3 linked regions of the Homo sapiens genome follow. The main gene of each other region encodes a partner of the protein of the gene in region 2 in a complex. Each region holds a gene or a part of one and is shown on either strand. Other genes may lie near its edges.

What was found. Proteins that work in one complex are often made in the same cells at the same time.
Region 1: CRNKL1 (region 2) and CWC27 share a complex: the UniProt entries of both Homo sapiens proteins name them as parts of the minor spliceosome.
Region 3: CRNKL1 (region 2) and SRRM1 share a complex: the UniProt entries of both Homo sapiens proteins name them as parts of the minor spliceosome.

The regions. Positions count from the first base shown.
Region 1 is NC_000005.10:64,778,906-64,785,931, reverse strand, and holds part of CWC27 (spliceosome-associated protein CWC27 homolog), read right to left. Parts: intron 4,012-7,026; coding exon 3,899-4,011; intron 2,097-3,898; coding exon 1,953-2,096; intron 452-1,952; coding exon 353-451; intron 1-352. UniProt on the Homo sapiens protein: As part of the spliceosome, plays a role in pre-mRNA splicing. Probable inactive PPIase with no peptidyl-prolyl cis-trans isomerase activity. As a component of the minor spliceosome, involved in the splicing of U12-type introns in pre-mRNAs.
Region 2 is NC_000020.11:20,049,443-20,057,325, reverse strand, and holds the start of CRNKL1 (crooked neck-like protein 1), read left to right. Parts: upstream 1-4,983; coding exon 4,984-5,034; intron 5,035-6,703; coding exon 6,704-6,856; intron 6,857-7,883. Other genes in the region: CFAP61 (cilia- and flagella-associated protein 61), read right to left, coding at 530-672. UniProt on the Homo sapiens protein: Involved in pre-mRNA splicing process. As a component of the minor spliceosome, involved in the splicing of U12-type introns in pre-mRNAs.
Region 3 is NC_000001.11:24,653,278-24,660,303, forward strand, and holds part of SRRM1 (serine/arginine repetitive matrix protein 1), read left to right. Parts: intron 1-1,028; coding exon of another isoform or gene 1,029-1,066; intron 1,067-1,577; coding exon 1,578-1,852; intron 1,853-2,374; coding exon of another isoform or gene 2,375-2,386; exon of another isoform or gene 2,387-2,413; intron 2,414-7,026. UniProt on the Homo sapiens protein: Part of pre- and post-splicing multiprotein mRNP complexes. As a component of the minor spliceosome, involved in the splicing of U12-type introns in pre-mRNAs. Involved in numerous pre-mRNA processing events.

The sequences.
Region 1 (7,026 bases), on a different chromosome or scaffold from region 2:
CAGCATCCCAAAGTGCTGAGATTACAGGTGTGAGCCACCGTGCCCAGCAGATTACTCTTAAATTACCTATGAAGTCACTACTTTGGGCTAAATAAACCTAATTCCTTTAACTTTCCATTATGAGGTAAGCTTTTCAGTCATTGGATTATCAGATAAAGTTTCATCTTTGAATTAAAATCTTTAATTAAAAAAATTCTTAACTAGAAACGGTGCCCAAATAAATTAGAGATAAAATTTGAGTTGTGATGTTAACATAGTATAAAGCCTTAATCCAATAGTTTAAAAATACTAAGAATCAATTCCTCTTAAACGACAATGTAAGTGCTGTATCTCGTAATAATCATGCTCCTACCTCACAGCTTTTTATTTTGTGTGGATTATGTGGTCTTTCGTCATCATCAATGTCTACTTCTGACAGTCGCAACATGTTATATACTGTATCCCCTGTAACCTATCAAATTAAAAATATAATGTAATTGAAAATTATTGCACTCATCCTTTGAATTAAGAGAAAACCTTTGAAAACATCTTTCAAATAATTAAAAGAAAATTTCATGTGATTACATAAAAATATATGCATTTAATAATGCAAATAAAGCAACTTTATCTTAAAGGAGAAAAGCATGGATGGAGTTCAATCCCCCAATAAGTTTTTTGGAAATTTCCAATATATATTTAATGTAAGTTTTTATTAATAATATAATGCCAAATAATCTCCTACTGAATGACAACTTTTCATTCAAACATCATAAACAAATTTAAACTTTGGAATAGGATAAAATAAGCAAATAACAATAACAATGTGGTAAATGCTTTAGAGACATTATCTCATTTAATCCTCACAAACAACCTAAAAGTAGGAACTAATATTATCCTTCTACAGATAAGAAAAATGAGGATCAAAGAAGGTATAAAACCAACAGTGATGGCCTTTCTAACTTCTAACTATGCTACACATTGTCTCTGATGTGTTAGTTATATAACCCAATTGTAAAAACTGATGCAGAATGGCAACTTAAATCTCATTTTATTACACACTCTTATTTTTAAGGAATAAATGGAGGGAATCTATAAACATCAGACAGGCTGTGCTGGAGTGGCTCAAAAGAATGTGCCAATGCATATTTCCTAACCCACTGTTATTAATAAGTATTAACCAACAACATTGCAACATATAGTTTTAGTGTGATTCCTTTCATTCAGTGTTTTTCAAGAGTTTTAAAACAACACCAGCTTTCCAATTGTACTGAATTTGTTTTTTTCCCTTTCATCACCACAAAAATCCAGTTTTGCCCAGTATATGGGGAAACCATTCTTACTGAACCAGCAGAGGGCGCTGATGCACTAGTGATGTCCGATATGCCTAAGACTTAAAACATATAGAAACATATTTATGAGAATGGAGAAGAGTGAGAGAAGAAAACCTTCAGAATCCCTTTTTAAAGGGAATTGTTAAAAATTCTATAGAAAGGACGTTCCCTAATATGACATTAAATGTGAGCAGGATTAAATAGGTACTATTCAAAGTAATATTTACAGTAAGAAGTTTCAATGTCAACACAAATTCCACTTTAAACTTAAGAAAATCCATCATTAAGAAAATAAACTGTAAACTACTAAATATTATTACCTAAATGTCCTTCCAAAAGTGTAAAATCAATATTGGCTAAGTGGCACATTTTAGCTCATACCATTACTATGATTTTAAAGAAGGAATACACTAAAGTCACAACTAATGACTGAATTGAAAGATCCAAAAAGAACTTAGATGCTCCCTCATAGTGCACTATATTAGGAATATATTCCATCATTTTTGAAAATAATAAACATATCCTATGGAATGTTTTTACAAAGGTAGCTCTTAGATAAGTTAATCATATGTATCTTAGAAGTCTAAGGAATAACATAAAACCAAAAACTGAACCACAGGTTTAAAATCACTGGACACTAACCTTTCCAAAGATGGTATGCTTATTGTTAAGTTCATCTGCTCGACCCAGTGTGAAGAAAAACTGGCTGCCATTATCATGAGAACCAGCATTTGCCATGGCAACCAGTCCTCTCCGATTAAAACGCAACCGTGAATGAAATTCATCCTGAAATGTAAAAAGATTTAGTGAATGTCCTCAGTTATAAGACCCTTCATATGCAGTTATTCAACTTGACCTGCAAGGTCCCATACAACTTCTAATAAAAAATGCAGACATTTTACTTAATTGATTTTCAAGTATTTACTATTCTTTCAATGTTATTAAACTTGAATTCACTAGACTGTATCTTCTAAATATACTCAGACAGAAATATACCCTATTTTGTAGAAAGCTGCTTAGTTACATCTAAAGGAAGAGTACCCAAGGGGGAATGGATTTCTAAGTCATTTCCCTATTCTCATCCCAAAGTCAGCTATGCTTTTGAAATCTTCTATTATTTCTCCCAGAAAACTACCTTTGAGCCATTGCAGAGTATTCAATTATTACTCCTTCCCATCTCATTCTAAATGTCATTAAACAATTGCTTTGTTCTTGTTTTTTAATTCAAATAATCTACTATGATTGTGTTATGTAATTTTACCATGTCTTTTTAAAGTCCTAAGTTGAATCTTCTCTGAAATGGCACTGATTCTATTTGCCAGTTTTCAAAAGAGCAGGAACAAGCCTTTCTAAGGTGGTTTTCTCACCATGACAGGGCTACTTAACAAATATATTAGTCTCTTAGTTAACAGAATTTCCATCCAGCCTGATACAGAACTCATTTATAAATGTAGTCATGTTATATCATAAATGCTTTTCACAAAGGAAGATATTTTTCCTTAATAAATAATTCTCAAGAGATCTGAACTCAATGGATCATAACTCTGTATACTGTATTCAAAATGACCTAATTGAAAAATGTAACAAGATAACTGTATTACCTGAAAATAATGAAGCAAAAATCTCAAATTAGGAAGGAATTGTCAAAAACAGCTATTCTGTCACACCAAATAAAAGAATAAAAGAATGCTTCCGACTAGACGGAGTATCTAAAATCATGAGAAGTCTTACCATGGTAAAATATAAAATAGTCTAAAAGTGACATCTGAGACTTTTAAAATAACTATTCCACATTTCTAAGGCCATTATCATCTGGAAATTAAAGCTAACAGTTCAAGTATTTTCTTCAAGAATCACACAATGACTCATTAAAAGATGAAAGGAAAATGCAATCTATTCCCTTAATATAAAAACGAATTTTTCAAAAACTCCCATATTTTAAGAGATACCAATATTTACTCATTCAAAGAACATGATATTGGTGCCATCAAATTAATAACAAACACAACTTTTAGCTTTTACTTGAACCTGCTGTTGTTATTATCTTCACTATGACATTAACTCCTTTTCTTCTTAGATCTATGTTGGCAGTTAAGAAATCACTGACCTGTTCTTGATTAATGCATCTTTTACAGACAATTTATTTATTTATTTATTTATTTATTTATTTATTTGAGACGGAGTCTCGCTCTGTCGCCCAGGCTGGAGTGCATTGGTGCGATCTCCGCTCACTGCAACCTCCACCTCCCAGGTTCAGGCAATTCTCCTGCCTCAGCCTCCTGAGTAGCTGGGAATACAGGCGTGTGCCACCATGCCTGGCTAATTTTTGTAATTTTAGTAGAGATGAGGTTTCACCATGTTGGCCAGGCTGGTCTCAAACTCCCGACCTCAAGTGATCCGCCCCCCTCGGCTTCCCAAAGTGCTGGAATTACAGGCATGAGCTACTGCACCCAGCCTGATGTTTATATACTAATGTGAAACGTTTTTTCCTCTTGTGGAACACAATCATTTTCGATTAAGCAATCCAAACTGACTTGGAAATAATAATAACAACAAAAATAATAATAAAAATAATAATTCAGTCTTACTTTGAATGGCGCTCCATAGATAGACTCTCCACCACTCCCTGTGCCAGTAGGATCTCCGCCTTGGACTATGAAACCAGGCACAACTCTATGAAAAATGGTATTGTCATAATAAGCTGAAAAAAAAATAAAAATAATTTATCAATGTCTAAAATTAATCATCTCTACAGTTACCAAAATTAATACAGCTAGAGTCAAAAGATTTATTTTCCAGAATGTTAAATACGCTCCCCAGCCAAAACCTTTTGTATCCTCCTTCTTATAAAATAGTTACTTCTCAGAACAGCACACATTTCTACAGAAACCATCACTGTTGACTTCTTGTTTTTATTTCTAGGATTCTCTCAAACTCTGGACTGGTCTTCAAAACAGAAATTAGAGAGTTCTGATAGGGAGGAGAAGCAATATTGTGCCCCAGGGGACATTTGTCAATTTCTGAAAATATTTTTGGTTATCACAAATGGGGGATACTACTGGCATCCAGTGAGTAGGGGGCAGGGATACTGCTAAACACCCTATACTGCAAAAGACAGTTCCCACAACAGAGAATTACCAGCCCAAAATGTCAACTGTATGGAGACTGAGAAACCCTGGCAAAGATAAATACCTTATTTCCCACTGCTTCCTCTTTTCCTCACAGGAAATTAATTTATTAACACACAAACTCATAATATATCAAAATTACTTATTAGTTATAGGTCTAGAACCATCAATACACCCTCCTCAAGAAACTTTGAATAAATAAAACAAATAACACAATACATACTTGAGTCCAATTAGCTCAGTTTGCTAAATGATTGAAATAAATTATTAATATTTATATGTAATTCAAAAATATACAATTGGAGTATATAATTTAGAACTCATAAATATACAGGAGAGACTGTATATGACCTCCTATACTATATATTATCTGGAACCTAAAATCATTAGGATACTTCATAGAAGAAAAGGAAGTTAACTTGGGAATGGCAGAAGCATGGCATCTCAGTGAGGCAAAGTATAAGCGACAAATTGAGTGGGAAGCAGGAATTAGAATTTGCCTGAATAAGAGAATTTACATTAAGAAGTAGCAATAATGACCAACATGCATAACAAAAGATGCTCAATATTATTAGTCATTAGAGAAATGCAAATCAAAACCACAATCAGATACTACTTCACACCCACTAGAATGGCTAACATCAAAAACCTTAAAAGAATAAGTGTTGGTAAGGATGTGATGAAACTGGAACCCTTTTACATTGCTGGTGGGAATATAAAATAGTGTAAAAAGTTAAACACAGAATTAGCATGTAATCCAGCAATTATGATTCCGGTGTGTGTGTGTGTGTGTGCGCGCGTGTGCGCGTGTGTATACAAGTGATATATATGTTTATATATTAATATATAATTTATAAGTGTAAATATATATAGTTCACATAAATAATATATAATATATAAGTAATTATAGTTATAAGTAATTTTGATATATATTGTTTGATATATAAATTATATATAATATATATATCACTGTGCACATGATCAGATTTGCTTTTACAAAACATCATATATTTATATATATTGTTTCTATATATATCCAAAAGAATCGATTGTTTATATATATATCCAAAATATATATATTTGTATATACATCCAAAAGAGTTGAAAACAAGTACTCAAATACACACAAATGTTCATAGCAGCACTATTCACAAGAGCCAACAGGTGTAAACAATTCAAATGTCTATCAATGGATGAATGGATAAATAAAATGTGATATATACATATGATGGAATATGACTGTCACAAAAAGGAATGAAATACTCATACATGCTACAAAATGGATGAACTTCAAAAACATGCTAAGTGAAAGAACCCAAACACAAAGTCACATATTGTCTGACTCCATTTATAAGAAATATCTAGAATAGGTAAATCTGCAGAGATGGAAAATAGATTGGTGGTTGCTGGGGGCTGTGGGTGGAGGAGGGGTATATTAGTCCATTCTCACACTGCTATGAAGAAATACCCAAGACTGGATAATTCATAAAGGAAAGAGGTTTAATTGACAGTCCCACATTGCTGGGGAGGCCTCAGGAAACTTACAATCATGGCGGATGGCAAAGGAGAAGCAGGCACTTTCTTCAGGCAGCAGGATGGAGTGAGCGCAAGCAGGGGAAATGCCAGATGCTTATAAAACCATCAGATCTCATGAGACTCACTCATTATCACAAGAACAGTAAGGGAGAAAATGCCCCTATGATCCAATCACTTCCACCTGGTCCTGCCCTAGACATGTGGGGATTATGGGGTTTACAATTCAAGGTGAGATTTGGGTGGGGACACAGAGCCAAACCATATCAAGGGGAGAATAGAGAATGACTGGGTTAATGGATACAGAGTTTTCTTTTGGGGTAATAAAGTGTTTTAGAACTACATAGAGGTGCCGGCTGCACATTATAGTGAATATACTAAATGATGTTGAACTGTACACTTTAAAATGGTTAGTTCTATTTTATATAAACTTCACCACAGTTTTTTCAAAAAATCCGTTAGGTGGAAGGAAAGAAATTTTACATCACTGAAATTAGTTCTGTACTTACATTAGGTAAGCACAAGAGGAAAACATATGTAGTATGAAGTACTGAATAAACAAAAGCTATTATTTTTGTTGTTGTAAAAACAAACAAAAAGCAAATAGCAACAAAGCAGGTTGTGGTTGAGCCAATCATCGAGTTAGGCAGTCATGATTCAATCACATGCTGAGGGTTACAAAGCAGAAAGATGGAAAAAGCACAGTTCCCTAAAGATTTCACTGAGCTTCCCTAAAGATTTCACCAGATTTCTTGACATACAGGAGGATAAATGTCTTTATTATTTAAATCATTTTGAGTTGGGTCTTCTATTACCTGCAACTGAATACAACCTGAATATAACTCATTCAATGAAAAATATTTATCAAGTATCTACTGTGGGCCAGGCATTTTACTGATACAGTTACTGACATAATTTATAAAGTTCCTATTTTAGTGTCTTGGAGACACCCTCATAATTATTTATATTTGCAAAGTATAACTGGATATACAATGCATATTTTAAAAATTATAATCTGTATTCTAACAACTGTATTTAGTACACAGTACATAAGA
Region 2 (7,883 bases):
CAAAGCCCATGAGAAACCTTTTTGATTTGCATATTATTATAGGAAATAGGAATTTGTTGTTCCCAGAGATTTCTTGCTACAATTTTTTCACTGTGCAGTAAGCTACCCATTTGCTCACAATAAGCCCCATAAAGACAAAAAGGTAGGATCCTTTTCTGGCATGTCATAAAATTGAGGAACCTTCTTTTTTTTTTTTTTTTTTTTTAATTGAGACAGGGGTCCGCTCTGTCATCCAGGCTGGAGTGCAGTGGCGTGTCTTGGCTCACTGCAGCCTCTGCCTCTTGTGTTCAAGCGATTCTCATGCCTCAGCCTCCCGAGCAGCTGGGATTACAGGCATGCGCCACCACGCCCAGCTGATTATTGTATTTTTAGTAGAGATGAGGTTTTGCCATGTCGGCCAGGCTGGTCTTGAACTCCTGGCCTCAGGTGATCTGCCTGCCTTGGCCTCTCAAAGTGCTGAGATTACAGGTGTGAGCTACTGCACCCAACCAAAATTGATGAACATTCTTGAACTTAGTTATCTACTTACAGAAGATAGATGATATTTAGCTTCCCAAACAGCTTGCAGGTAAATTTTCTAATAAGGCTTTTGATACAATAAACATCCTGTGATTCTGTTCTTCGGCAATGAACAACTTCTACCTTTCCTCTTGGAGAAGTGAGTACTGACATTTTTTATCCTGTCCCCAAAAGAGAGAAAAAAGTCCACTATTAATCTGATATGATAAGCCAGTTTGGTTATAATACACACAAAACTGAACACTAATTCAATTTCCATGTGGTCAGAGTGAACATGGTGTGAGAATACTGGTGTGACACGTTTTCCCCTGGGTGTAGTCTGTGACAACTGTCACTGCAAACCAGCTGACGTTCCTCCATAGGAGAATGAAGTTTCTGAGAACTGGCCTGTTTAGAAGTTTCTGCAACTATATTCTTTGTTTCCAACAAAGCTGCTTTAAAAAATTCTAACAATAGAATTGGAAAAACATTGAAAGGAATTATTTACGGATTCAGGGTCCTCTTATATTTAATCGGCCACGATGGCATGTGGTGAAGAGTTACTGGGGAAATACTGACAGCTGCTGCCTATGTTCTTAATAGAGTTCTCCAAACTGGAGCCCTGAAGGTCAGCAGTCTTGAGACATATTTTGAGACCAAAAAAGTTCTGTGGTTAAGTGTAGGAAATGCTCGCAATAGGCTTCCTGAAGGGCCACCAGGCCCATTAACATCTTTGAGAGGTTCCATAATAAAGCAACTTGTTTTCTTTGTATAACCCAGCCTTTCCGACACTCTTTGGGAAGAGAATCTCTAATGACGGCAACAGTGGAGAACCTAACGTTCCAGAAGGACACTTTGGGAAATGCTGTTGACAAAAACAGTAGGTCACAAAATGATTTCAATTTCTCTCTCATTGTCTCAATTTCTGTAAGTCTCTCTTCTCTCTTTCCCTCCCTTCTTTCCTTCATAGGGAAAGCCATTTTATTATATACTAGCCAGTGAGCTCAAAACAGGGAAAACAATGAAGGAGAAATTAATAATGTCTAGACTCCTATCGAAGCTAACCATAAATATTGTCATTCCTTGTTCTGGTTTTAAATTGAAAGCAAAATTGGAATGAGACATCTTGTTTGTGAAACATATCATAAACTAATGCTACAAGTATATAAAAATTCTGAATAAAATAAGGAAGTATAATTAATTAGATAACTGACTTTGGTAAAAAGAAAACAAGAAAAGAAGAAAGAAAGCGAGCGAGGGAAATTCTCCAACCAGGTGGCAATGATGTGAGCCGATCTGACACAGGTTTTGGGGATAGAATGGACCTCACTCCAAACAGAGAATTAAAAATTAAACCATGCATCTACCTGGGACTTTGGATGGGCCCCTCGGTAAGTGAGGGGGCTAGAAAAATTAAACTCACCAGCCCAAGAAAGTGACAAGCTTTCTCTACACAAAGCTCTAGGTAGAAAATAAAGCAAAAATACTGCTGAGAAGTCCAAATTCTAGACTAAAGTGGGTATGGCATTCTAGTCCACACAATCTGTGTATTATGGGAGTCACCAAGAACTTTAGATGATAGACTCTGAAACAGACTACAAACTAAGTATGTTTATAATAAAGAAATATAGAAAGAGAAACAAAAGTCATGAGAAGAGAACAGGTCATTATTTAAAAAAGAACAGAAACTTAAAAAATGAAATACGTGGTTATTAAAATTTAAACTAAGAGGATGGGTTAAAAACAGAAGAATAAAGAAAATAAACTGGAAGATACTTATGAACAAATTATCTAGAAAGAAGCACATAGAAACAGAAAATACAGAATTCAGTAAAGACACATGTAAGACAGAATGAAAAACATCTGTCTTATGGGAATTCCAAAAGGAATAAATGAAACATTTGAAAATAATGGCTAATTACTTTTAGCATGGATGAAAGACATGAACCTTCAGTTCAGAGCAAAAAATACAAATAAACTCCAAATATATAGTAAAACTACAAAACCCTAAAGACAAACAGAAAACTTTAAAGGAACCTGACAAAAGACAGACTGTCTATAAAAAATAATTAGACTGACAGAATATTTCTCATGAGCAACATTAGAAGCCAGTAGCACGGGGGTTAGCAAACTTCTGTAAAAGGCCAGAGAATAAATACATTAAGCTTTATGAGCCACATGTTGTCTACACAACTAGTCAACTCTGCCATTGTAGCACAGTAACAACCAGAGACAATATCGGCACAAATGAGCATGAATGTATTCCCACAAAATTTTACTTACATACACTGAAAGTTGACTTATGTATAATTTTCATGTGCCATGTAATTTTTAAAAAATGTTTAAAATGTAAACTACATATAAAGTTTAATGTAAAATGTGTGTGTGTATATGTGTATGTATGTGTGTGTGTATATATATATATATATATCCCTAGCTCATTCACAGTCCATACAAAATAGTCAATGGGCTGAATTTAGTCTACGGCCCATAGTTTTCTAACTACTAGAATAGTGTTTTAAAAATATAAAAGGAAAAAATAACCATTAACCTAGACTGATAAACCTAAACAATCACTTTAAAATGAAGATAAAATAAAGACAATTTCATACAAAGACTGAAAGAATTCAAAGAATCTTGTAGAAAGAACTAGGAGATGGTATATTCTGAGAAGAATAAAATCAGAAAGAAGTGGAATACAAGATTAAATGCTGGGAAATAAGAAGGTAAACATGAAGGTATATCTACAAAAGCATTGATGGCAAAAAGTAAGAAGGATAATACATTTTTCCTAAAAAAAAAAAAAAAAAAAAACAAACAAAAAAAACACACACAGAGATGAACTGAATTGCCAGACAACAGAAATGTAAGAGAGAAGGATGGTGATCAGAAGCAAAGTATTCTAGCATGTTTGTACTTTTGAGCAAAGGCAACAGATGATTAAACCAATGATTCATTTGGTAAATCAATTGTTTACAGTAACACATTTAAGGAAAATCACTTCAAAGAAACATCTTTTTAATATTTATTTATTTTGTTAGGTGGCTTTATGAAAGTGATATAAAATCTTCTCTATTTAAATTTTGAAAAGTGAGATAAAATATCTAAATAATATGGTTAATAAAGAGTTATGGCAAATACATTGATGTTGGTTATAACTGACTGCAGTTCTAGAAATCTGCATAAATCTTTTGTTGAAAGTAATATCTGCATTGGTAGACGTGATATTACTACATACATAAATATATATTTTCCCCAAACACCAAAAGAGCTTTGCAACTGTGGAAATTATCCTAACAAATGAGCTGCCAAGTCATGTCATTATACATTTGTCCAACCTCATAGAATGTACACCAAGAGTGAACCCTAATATAAACTATGAACTTTGGGTGATAATGATGTGTCAATGTAGGTTCAAGATTGTAACAAATGTACTGCTCTGGTGGAGGATATTTTTAAGAGTTGGAGGCTGTTAGAGGAGGGAAGAGGTACAATAATTGATAGCAGGAAGCTGTGGAGGGAGGAAATCTCTGTGTCTTCCACTTAATTTTGTTGTGAACCTAAAACTTCTCTAAAAATGTCTATTAAAAAAAATTCTCTTAACCTTTGCTTTTCAGTTTTTGAGGGCAGGTTAAGTATTATAACAGCTAACATCTACTGAGCATTTGTCTTTAATCCTAGTGAAACAGATGTTATTAGCCTTGTTTTATAGTTGAGGACATTGAGGCTAAGAAAATTTAACTAGAGTAATTAAGGCACACACAGAATTTAAACATGTTTCTTATCACAAGACTGAGTTGTTTTCCAGTTACTCTATTTATATTTTTTCCTAATATCTGGCTTCAAAGTACCTTCTGTTATTTTTAATTCCAAGCCTTAGAGTTAATTATTTGGGCACCTTAGAATTATTTGGGCACAACTGTCCCGAAACCAGAAACGAGGGGGCGTGGACCCAGAGACTACTAGAATGCAATGCTCGAGGCATTGCAGCCTAAAAGGGCGGCAGCTCGCCCCGTCGCATGCTGGGAATGGTAGTTTCCTCGCTCTCCCTTCTTCCCCCGCCCTCGAGCATCCAGATTGGAGCTCCGTTCTTACTCCCTTGCAGGGCGCCACGGCTCGACAGAGCCACTCGTCCTCGCCTGGTCATCCCAGTTCCGGAGGCTGACCTGGGGATGCGCCCTGGACGCCCTGCACCGCAGTCCTTGCGTCGCTGCTAGTCAGCACGGCGTTACCCACCTCATCCGCAGCTCCAGGACGCCGCACTCCACGCGCTGCCGCAAGGAGGACGCGCAGCCTGGTCACCATGGAAACGGTGCCGCCTCCGTCACGGCTCAAGCGAGAGGTCAAAGGTCAGTCCTGCAAGTTCCGCTTCCGGTTCCGAGATCCTGTTTGTTTTCTGAAAGCTTTGTGGTTTCGGTGAGCTCTCAGAGCCGATTTCTAGCGTCCGTGCCGGGGACAGGTGTCCAGAGGTCGACTGCTGCAGACATGGCGGCCTCCACCGCGGCCGGGAAGCAGCGGATTCCCAAAGTGGCCAAGGTAGGCGATCGCGAGGGGCCTTGTAGGAGGTGGCCTAGGAAAGGGGCATCCCTCAGCCCTGAGGGTGCCCGGGTTGGGAGAGAGTGTTCCCGCCGGGGAGAAGGCTCACCCTGAGAGATGGAGAGGAAGGGCAGCTGGTGGTGGGGCGCGGGCTCTTGTCATCGCGGAGCACGACCCGCGTTGGCGTGGCCTTCGTTCTGGGGTGGTTTTGCTGGGGAGTGGAGTGGGGTGGTTCGGTGAAGATTTACTGAGCCAGGCACTGCACTGGGCGCTGGGAAGCTACGCTCGTACGCTGGCCACAAGCAGTACTCAAAACACGAGTTTCTGTATAAAGACGACCTTGCTAGATGTTACCGAGAGGCAAAGTAGAATATGCCATGGGCGTGAATAAGGGGGTCGTATGAAGGGGTCCTGAAAGTAAATTTTGCTGAGGAAATGACCTTTAAGCTGAGACTTGAAGGCTGAATAGGAGTTAGCCCAGCTGACAGCGGAGGGCGAGAGTAGACGGTAGGAGTAGTATAGTATCATAAGTTAATTAAACAGTAGACTTACTATCTGGTATTTCCTTTGATAGCTAATACTTACCAAGTGCTTAATATGTGGCAGACTTTGAAGCCTTTACAGATACCCTCCCTCCAGTCTTTCTTGAGCCCGGATGACTCTCTTGAACTGGACCTTTACATAACTATTTGTCTGACTCGCAGGAGTAATGCATATAGAGCAAGTAACACTGTGTCTGGCACTTAGTGCTTATTAAATATGAGCTATCACCATTATCATCATTACTCCACATGTGGCATTAAGTAACATTTTTTATAATTCAGCTACATAAACTTTTATTGGGCATCACTGGTCCAATGGAAATATAATGCACACCACATATGAAATTTTAAATTTTCTCATATCTACATTAAAAAGTAAAAACAAAGCAAAAAAGTGAAATTAATTTTGATAATATATATTTTATTTGAGCTAATGTATCCAAAATATTATCATTTCAACATGTAATCGGTATAAAAAATGTAATGAGGTAGTTTATTCTTTTTTATACTTCATCTTCAAAACCAATGTGTATTTTACACTTACAGTCCACCTCAATTTGTACTCACCACATGTGACTCATAGCTACTGTGTTGGACAGCACAGCTCTAAGCTACGTTAGACTGTAAGCTTCTAAGACCTCAAGAAGCTTACAGTCTAATGATGAGAACTTACTGAAATTGCCTTTGACTTGAAGTGCCATGTAAAACCAAACCCAGTTATACACCGGGGCATTAAATAAGTTGAAGAATTCTGTAAATGCAGGTTGTAATGCTGTTAATAAGATGTGCTACACATTTTGATAAAACAAAACCTCTGGTCAGAATTTTACCTAGACGGCCTCAAAGTTTATTATTATACTCATCTAAAAGGGAAAACTTGCTATTATTTTTGCCACCTTTTTCTCTTGAGACTTTTACCTATGGCTTTGCAGTAGATACTATGAATAAGAGAGAAAACGGTATTTTTTTTTTCTTTTCAGTCTCATGGAGGAATGGGAACATGTCATACAAAAAGGGCATCTTGTGATAATACTAACAAAGTTCATATCCTAAAAAATGTATGTTTGTTTCTTAAGCCTTGTGTGAAGAGCAACTACTAAAAATAGAAATGTCTTCTTTCTTAAAAGGTGAAAAACAAAGCCCCGGCTGAGGTACAGATAACTGCTGAACAACTCTTAAGAGAGGCTAAAGAAAGAGAACTTGAGCTTCTTCCACCTCCACCTCAACAGAAGATCACAGATGAAGAAGAATTAAATGATTATAAACTAAGGAAAAGGAAGGTCAGTCAGTGTGGTATCTTTCAGTCCACTAATTGTTAAGACTGTATCGGTCAGTTTGAAAAGCTCCTCATTGGTTGGATTCTGTAGGGCAAGATGAGGTTAAGTGTTTCCAGACGCATGAATAATGTACTTCTGGTTACCAGATAACAGCATTTTTCTGAACTATATAAAATATGCCATGAGTTGTCTGGTTAAAGTGTAAAGAAATTGAATCTGCATAATTTTTGATGCTGAATCAAAGTGAGCGGAAGTTTAGCAGATGGAACAACTGACAACAAGAAGGAGGGTATGCTTAGTAAGGCTGCACTGTGTACTTCTGTCTATACCACCTTCTGTGTTAAGAATTGAGATCTGGCTGGGCACAGTGGCTCGCGCCTGTAATCCCAACACTTTGGGAGGCCGAGGCGGGCAGATCACCTGAGGTCAGGAGTTTGAGACCAGCCTAGCCAACATGGTGAAACCCCATCTCTACTAAAATACAAAAATTAGCCAGGCGTGGTGGCAGGTGCCTGTAATCCCAGCTATTCGGGAGGCTGAGACATGAGAATCACAGCAACTCGGGAGGCAGAGGCTGCAGTGAGCCGAGATCGTGCCACTGCACTCCAGCCTGGGCGACAGAGCAAGACTTTGTCTCAAAAAAAAAAAAAGAAAGAAAGAAAGAAAGGAAAAGGAATTGAGGTCTGCAAAAGGACCATGAGAAGACTTTGGGATCTGATTTGACCTCTTCACTCTAGAATGTGGGACTGTTTTAAAGCACTAATGCTGTTATATATGAAATTCTGAGAATTACCAGAGGACTTAAAGGTAATAGTCAAAAACATTTTTTATTAGGGACAAGCATAGACCATTTTAAAGTATCAGTTAGTTGACTGTAACCTTCTGTAGTGGGTTTCTTATTCCTCAAGGATTCCAGGATGTAATTTCTCTTAAATATGAACAAAATGAATAACCATTTTAGTACAAGACTTAAAATAGACCAAGGGTGCTGTCATTTTTAGTCATTTGTCTTTTGACTTGACCCTTTTTG
Region 3 (7,026 bases), on a different chromosome or scaffold from region 2:
CCTTCTAGACTTCACCAAGAAATCATACTAAGTAAGAGAATTGGCCACCTTCTCTTTGGCTTTTAACTGGCTTCTGAAAAGTAGCTGATTATAGGGCCAGTAAGCTCCTTTTACCAGTATTAAAGTAATTCATTTGCTGTTATACTTTGAGAAAAGTATTTTTATGAATTTTTTATAAAATTCTCAGAAAATTCTCATTATAGAAGTAATGAAGCTTATAAGTAATTCAGACAGAAATAGCATAACTTGGAAGTTTTCCATAATCCGTGGGGGAATATATCTATATTCCATAGATATAATTGCTATTACTAGTTTAGTGTCTGGTTATTTTTCAAAACCCCAACTGTACCAGTGTTCTTTTTTTTACATCATTCTAAAATGAGCATAAGATAAAATATTTGAATCTTGGATATATCACTTTAAACAAAAATTAGTGGCTAAGTCTACCCAAAGTAGAGTCCTAGTGCACTGGTAGCAGTTTTTGTGCCTTCTTGCAATACGTTTCACCTGGCTTGGGAAGAAATGCCGATGATTAAGCTTCCAGTTATTTTGGACAGAATTTTTTGTTTGAGTCTTTTAAAGTTCTTTTCAGGGAACCAAATCAATTTGGAAATAAAGAGGGGAAAAATCAAGTAAGCTCTGTAAAGTTACTTTGTTTCTGCAGTCAGGTTTTTCAGAGTCCCATATTTTGAAAATTTTCTTTGGGGAGGGGTTGTTAAGATATATTGAACTATTACTACTGTTGCAAAGAATTGATGTGTTGTGCTCATAGAGGAAATTAGTGAGGTAAATGGTCAGTCAATTTTCAGGCATCACACTTTTCTAATTCCCTTTTAGGAGAAAAGTAATGCTGGTGCTTCCTAGTACAAGATTAGTGGAAACAGCTATTTCTTATACTGGAGTTTTGCAAACAGCATGTTTAAATTGTGCTTACTCAGCCATTTAGCAGTCAATATTTTACAGATTGTTTAAGATTCCCTTTCAGCCAGTTTTTATCTCACACTTAAGGTAGGGTTTCTTTTTTTCAGGTTCTCAGGAATTCTTCCGCCAAAGGTGAATTCTGCAGGTACACATAATTGCAACAGAACTTAACACAAATTTTGCCGCAGAATTCGAGAGGCCCCTGCTTCTAAGTTTATGTAGCTAAATGAATTCTTAGTTTTGCACATCTTTTTTAAAAATGCAACCTAAAGGTTTCTCAACATTGTGTTATTAAATGGAAAATACCTTGCCCCCAAATTTTATATGCAAACTCCAAAACACCAATACCATTCCTAAGGCAGAAGGACTAGTTAGTTATTTTATTATAGCATTCAACCTGACAAGTTTTATAACTGGAGAGAGAACACAGACAGAAGTATTTATCAGATTAAGTTGTTTATATTAATCTCAGAACTAGCTGTTTCCTGGCCTAGGTTATGGTTTTTTCCCCCATTCTTTTGGACTCATTTATGTGCTTAGCTACATAAACTCAAAAGTCGGATTAAAATAGCTGTATTTTTGTGTAAACTGTTCATACCTGTAAGGCCGTTCTTTATAAGTGTGCAATTAGTGAATATGAATACTTTATTCCACAGAAGAAGACGTTCGTCAGCATCCTTGTCTGGGAGTAGCTCATCATCCTCTTCATCTCGTTCACGGTCACCACCAAAGAAGCCTCCCAAGAGGACATCCAGCCCCCCTCGGAAAACTCGTAGGTTATCTCCTTCAGCAAGTCCTCCAAGGCGAAGGCACAGGCCATCACCTCCTGCAACTCCACCACCCAAAACTCGGCATTCCCCTACACCCCAGCAGTCAAACCGTACAAGAAAAAGTCGTGTTTCTGTGTCTCCAGGGAGAACTTCAGGTAAAGGTAAAAATCAAACACATATGAAACATGGTCTCTCTTTCTTTGGCTACAAAGCGTAGTCAGTTATTGCCCCCTGCTCACTCTCAAAGTATGAAATAGCTAGATAATATTTGTATCTAATACTCTCTGTAGGTTTACTTATAAGCCTACCTCTTTCCTGCTTTAAAATCTTGGGGCTTTTTTATGTGTAAAAGGGTTTTGTTTTTAGCAATGCCCTGTGGCATTGCGCAGGTGGAGAAATCTTTTACCAGCCGTGGGCTGTTTGAGTTGGGGTAACATATCAAAGTTTGCGTTGGCATGATAAGGGATCATTTTATTACTATGAGACCAGTTAACTTTTTTTTCTCCTGAAGATTTTTGGTTTGATATCTTAAATAAGAGGACTTCATATTCTCTTTTAGTTCTTTCTTGGTCGCATTGCGCTCCCAAGCAAAGGACATGGTGTCCTCTTAAAAGCTGATTTGTTTTTTTAATTTAGGTTCTAGGCAGGGTTCTTCTGAGTGTTGTCCTTGCTTTATTCTGCAGATTGATTTCTGAGGAATTTATGATCTGTGAACCTGCCAGGCAAGTAGAATGCTGTGTTAGTCTGAGTGAAGGTTGTGGTCTATTGGGGTTTGTTCTGTGAGCATTAAATACGCATGGAAAAAACTGTAGTGTCCATTTGAACCAGGCTCTCTGGAGCTTAGGGCTGGAATGATATACAGCCTAAAAGGTGAGTAGTAAGGGATGGGGAGGATCTTAAAAGCTGCTAAAGCAATTGAGTTTTAAGGAGCAATCTGTAGGTTAACACACGCTGGGGTTATTATGATCATATTGAAAATTTCAGGTTAGAGCCAGGTGTGGTGGCATGAGCCTGTGGTCCCAGCTACTCAGAAGGCTAAGGCAGGAAGATCACTTGATCCCAGAAGTTCAAGGCTGGCCTCAGCCCCATAGCGAGATCCTGACTCTTAAAAAAAGAGAGAGAAAAAATTTCAGGTTAGAAACAAAGAAATGGGGATGGGCAAAATTTTCATTATACATTTTAATGAGCTTGATGAGACCAGCATTGCTAATTATTCACCCTGTTGCCTTATCTCCCCACTCCCCAAGGCTGCAATGTGGTGATACCTAGAAAGGCAAATTTTGCTTTCCTTTTTTGTATCTGTGACAATGAGGCATAGATAAGCTGACAGAGTGAAAGGGTGACCAGCAGATTATGATAGTCTGTAAAAAGTAATGTTTTCTGAATTGTGACATTTTTATTGTAGTGATAGGTTCATTAAATAAGACATGGCCACTTTTGTTGGCCCCTTAGAGAAGCAGCTAGTGAAAGTAGAGAAGCCTGTAACTGTTCCAGGTTCAGTCCTCAGTTTGAGAGAGGGGCTTCGGGATCACTGTTTTCATAACCTCATGTACCATACTGCTTTTCAGCATTGGGAAAATTTCAGTCCATTTTCAGTTACCATGTCCAAATCTGATGCCCATGGCCCTGGCCTATTTTGTCTTTTCCTGTAAAGTTTGTACTTCTGAATATTTATTCTTTGTCTGGAGCCACAAAGCTCTCCAGGGAAAAAAACAAGTGTTTTTACCTGTTACTTTGCAAAAACACATCAAGTGATGATTTTTTTCTATTTATATCATATAGCCTAAGAGTTGCAAAAGTACCTGAACAGAGGGACCAATCCTTGTTAAAATAGGTTGATTGTTAAGAATTATTAGGTACTTTTAAAAAGCATCTGCACAGATGCTAATTTCTTGTGTTTTGGCATATACTTTTTGCAAACAAGACAAGAGTGGATATGTACATAGGAAAGAAGTAAGCCATGGTGAAAATAAGTATTTCTGTGGGTTTTGGGACAGGGCTTCCGTGTTCAAACAACCTACCCAAAGAGAGGCACTACAGGCAGTGTAGTCAGTCTCCCCTGTGACCACTGGAGCTGAATATTGGTTTGACCTACTTGGAAATAACCTCTCCCCACCACCCCGCTAAATAGAGCCAGCATCTCACTCTGTCACTCGGGCTGGAGTGCAGTGGCCCAGTCATAGCTCACTGCAGCCTCCAACCCCTGGGATTACAAGTGTGAGCCACCACACCCGGCCCAGACAACCTTTTATATTAAACTGATCCCAGCCCTCTGTGATGAAATTTCAGAGCTAGAAAAGACCTTAACAGTTGTCATCAAGAAACAGATTTTCAGGTTAGTTGACTTGGTCAAGGTCAACCAACTAGGAATAAAACTTGAGTTGTCATTCCCAGTTAAATAGTGAATACTTTTCACAACTTTCCTACCCCAGAACTCTTCTTTGATTGCTAAAGGTGAGAAATGGAGGGCAGGGTTGAAATTCTTTAGCTTCTCTATCTGGTAGTATGATTTCAGAAATTACTTTGCAGTTTCTGCTGCTTAGAACAGTAACATCATTGAAATGTAATAGATATTACAGTTAATATTTTCCCTAGTGGCCACTAATCAGGGCTTTAGGGCTCTGCTCTTGATAGTGGGCAAATGGAGTGGGAGGGAGGCAGGAAAAGTGTTTTGGGGAACTTACAGGTTAATTATTTGGAATACAGTATACAGTCATCTGAAGGGATCTTAGGGGAAACATTTGTAATTACTGACATTTCATAAATTGGCATTATCTTAGTACATAAAATAGTGCTTGAAATCAGTGGCACAGTCAGCGAAGTATGTTAACATGATCAATACTGGTGGTGACGGTGTGGTAATTTTGATTTATTTAGATTAGCTTGGCCACATACATTGTGCTATCTGGACACTTAAATGGTTATTTTACTATTGTTGGTCACAGAGTAACTTATCTTTATAAGTGATCTTTTGGGCAGGTCTAAGATTAATAATTAATAGGACTGTTGGAGTAAATTTAAAATTGTGGTTTTAAAGTTGCCTTCTACGATTTCTGACTTCATGCTAGAATGATTTTGTCCCTTGAATACTTAAAACAACATTAACATAAAGTAAATGGTGTAAAGTCTCATCTAGAAAAATAGAAATCTGAAGTGCTGTTATAATATTAATAATGCTGTGATTCAATTGTATTAAACCAGAGTAGGAGTATATAAATGATAGTTGTTTGATGGTATAAATTTTTTTTTTTTTTTTTTTGGAGACGGAGTCTTGCTCTGTCGCCCAGGCTGGAGTGCAATGGTGCAGTCTTGGCTCACTGCAACCTCTGCCTCCCAGGTTCAAGCAATTCTCCTGCCTCAGCCTCACGAGTAGCTGGGATTACAGGCACATGCCACCACACCCAGCTAATACAAATGTATTAATAAAGACTACTTTAGCTGAGTAATTAGTGAGAAATTGAATCAGGATGCAACTCCAGATGTGTATTTCCACTGGGGGAGAATGGAAATAATGTTAAATTCACTTGTATTATATAATGAGTAGGCTTTTGCCAACTATCTTGTAAGCATAACCACATTTTTAATGTTTCTTAGGGGAAAATGTATCCAAACAATCAGCTTCCAAAGCAAGCTTGGGAACCCAGTTCTCTAAGGTGTGGTAACTTGGACATGCACTTTTTAACGACGTGCCCATAATATCTTTGCAGAAATTGAGGATTAAGTAACACTTAAAAATAGAGAATATGGACTTAGAAAAAGAGCCTCAAATAGTTAACAATTTTAAAATATTTTTATTTCTTTGAATTTGTTAAAATATAAGTATTAAGTATAGTTTGCTATTTGCACTGTCATGATTCCTGATATCTAATTGAGTGATAGCCATTCTTTACCCAATCCAGTGATTTGTCCAAATGGCTTATTACGTAGAAATTTTAAGAAAAGTCGCTGGGCGCGGTGGCTCACGCCTGTAATCCCAGCACTTTGGGAGGCAGAGGTGGGTGGATCACCCGAGGTTGGGAGTTCAAGACCCGCGTGACCAACATGGAGAAACCCTGTCTCTACTAAAAATACAAAATTAGCCGGGCGTGGTTGGCGCATGCCTGTAATCCCAGCTACTCAGGTGGCTGAGGCAGGAGAATCCCTTGAACCCGGGAGGCGGAGGTTGCAGTGAGCCGAGATCATGCCATTGCACTCCAGCCTAGGCAACAAGAGCGAAACTCTGTCTCAAAAAAAAAAAAAGAGAGAGAAAGGGAAAAGTCTGTTCATTGAAAAGGCATACTGGTAAATTCTTCATTTTGACTTCTTTAGCAAAGATGCGATTACTGTGTTAGATCACTGGTTCTCTAATTACTGCCCCTTGGAATAAACCATTACAGAATTCTGAATGTGAGTGTCTGTTAAATGAGATGTATCTGTATTCTGAGTCAAACATTCCATGGCAATTGCTTTAATCACACAAAACAGGTATCAGGATCCTGAGAGGATCAAATTGTCTGTAGGTTTATTTCTTATTGGGATGTTCTCAAGTGGTGTTTTAGGTTAATTTATGGTATATATATGTTTATATGTGAATATACTTATGATTTTAGTTGTAGCAATGGATAGATACTATAAGCAGAGTTAGTTGTTGAGATTAAAACCCATGGCCTAAAAATAGATTCTTGGATTCACATCTTAGCTCACTTAAATTGTCTTTGTGACTGAGGTGAAGTTGCTTCTTTTTAAGCCTCAGGTTTCCTCTCTTGTGAAATGGAACAGGGAGAAAGGGATGTGATACTACTGTGTTAATAGTGTGTCTAATACAGCAGGCTTACAAAAGGTAGTTACCATATTTCTATGTTATTGGTAAAAGACAATTGGATAATTCATAGGATACCCACTGCTCTCCTACTACTTGAGGTATAGAAATGCCTTTTTTTCTTTCTAGCTCTTTGGAAAGAATCCTCGTCTTTGTATTTAATCATTTTTACTATTTGTGGCGGTCTGCTTTTTTTCATGGGTAGTTTAAATCCCCTGTGCTATTGTGAAGATTATGCTCTACATAAAGAACCTTTAACCTGTTGGGCAGTCATTCTTCTTTTCTAGACCAAATATCTTTGTGAAAGTTTCATGAGATCTTATTTCTTAATCATTTATCATCTTTTACTTTTCTGAACCCACCTATTGTGGTTGCTTAAAAGCTTTCATGTTGATGAAGTCTCTGAAGTTGAGTGTGAGGGAGTGAGTGTGGGTGTGGAGGGTGTGTATTTTAGATTGTGGAGCTCGTGTAGCACACAGAGGTTTACTTTACTGAGCTTGTTCTACTCAGTAGCAGCTCCCAATTTCCTTTAACTGT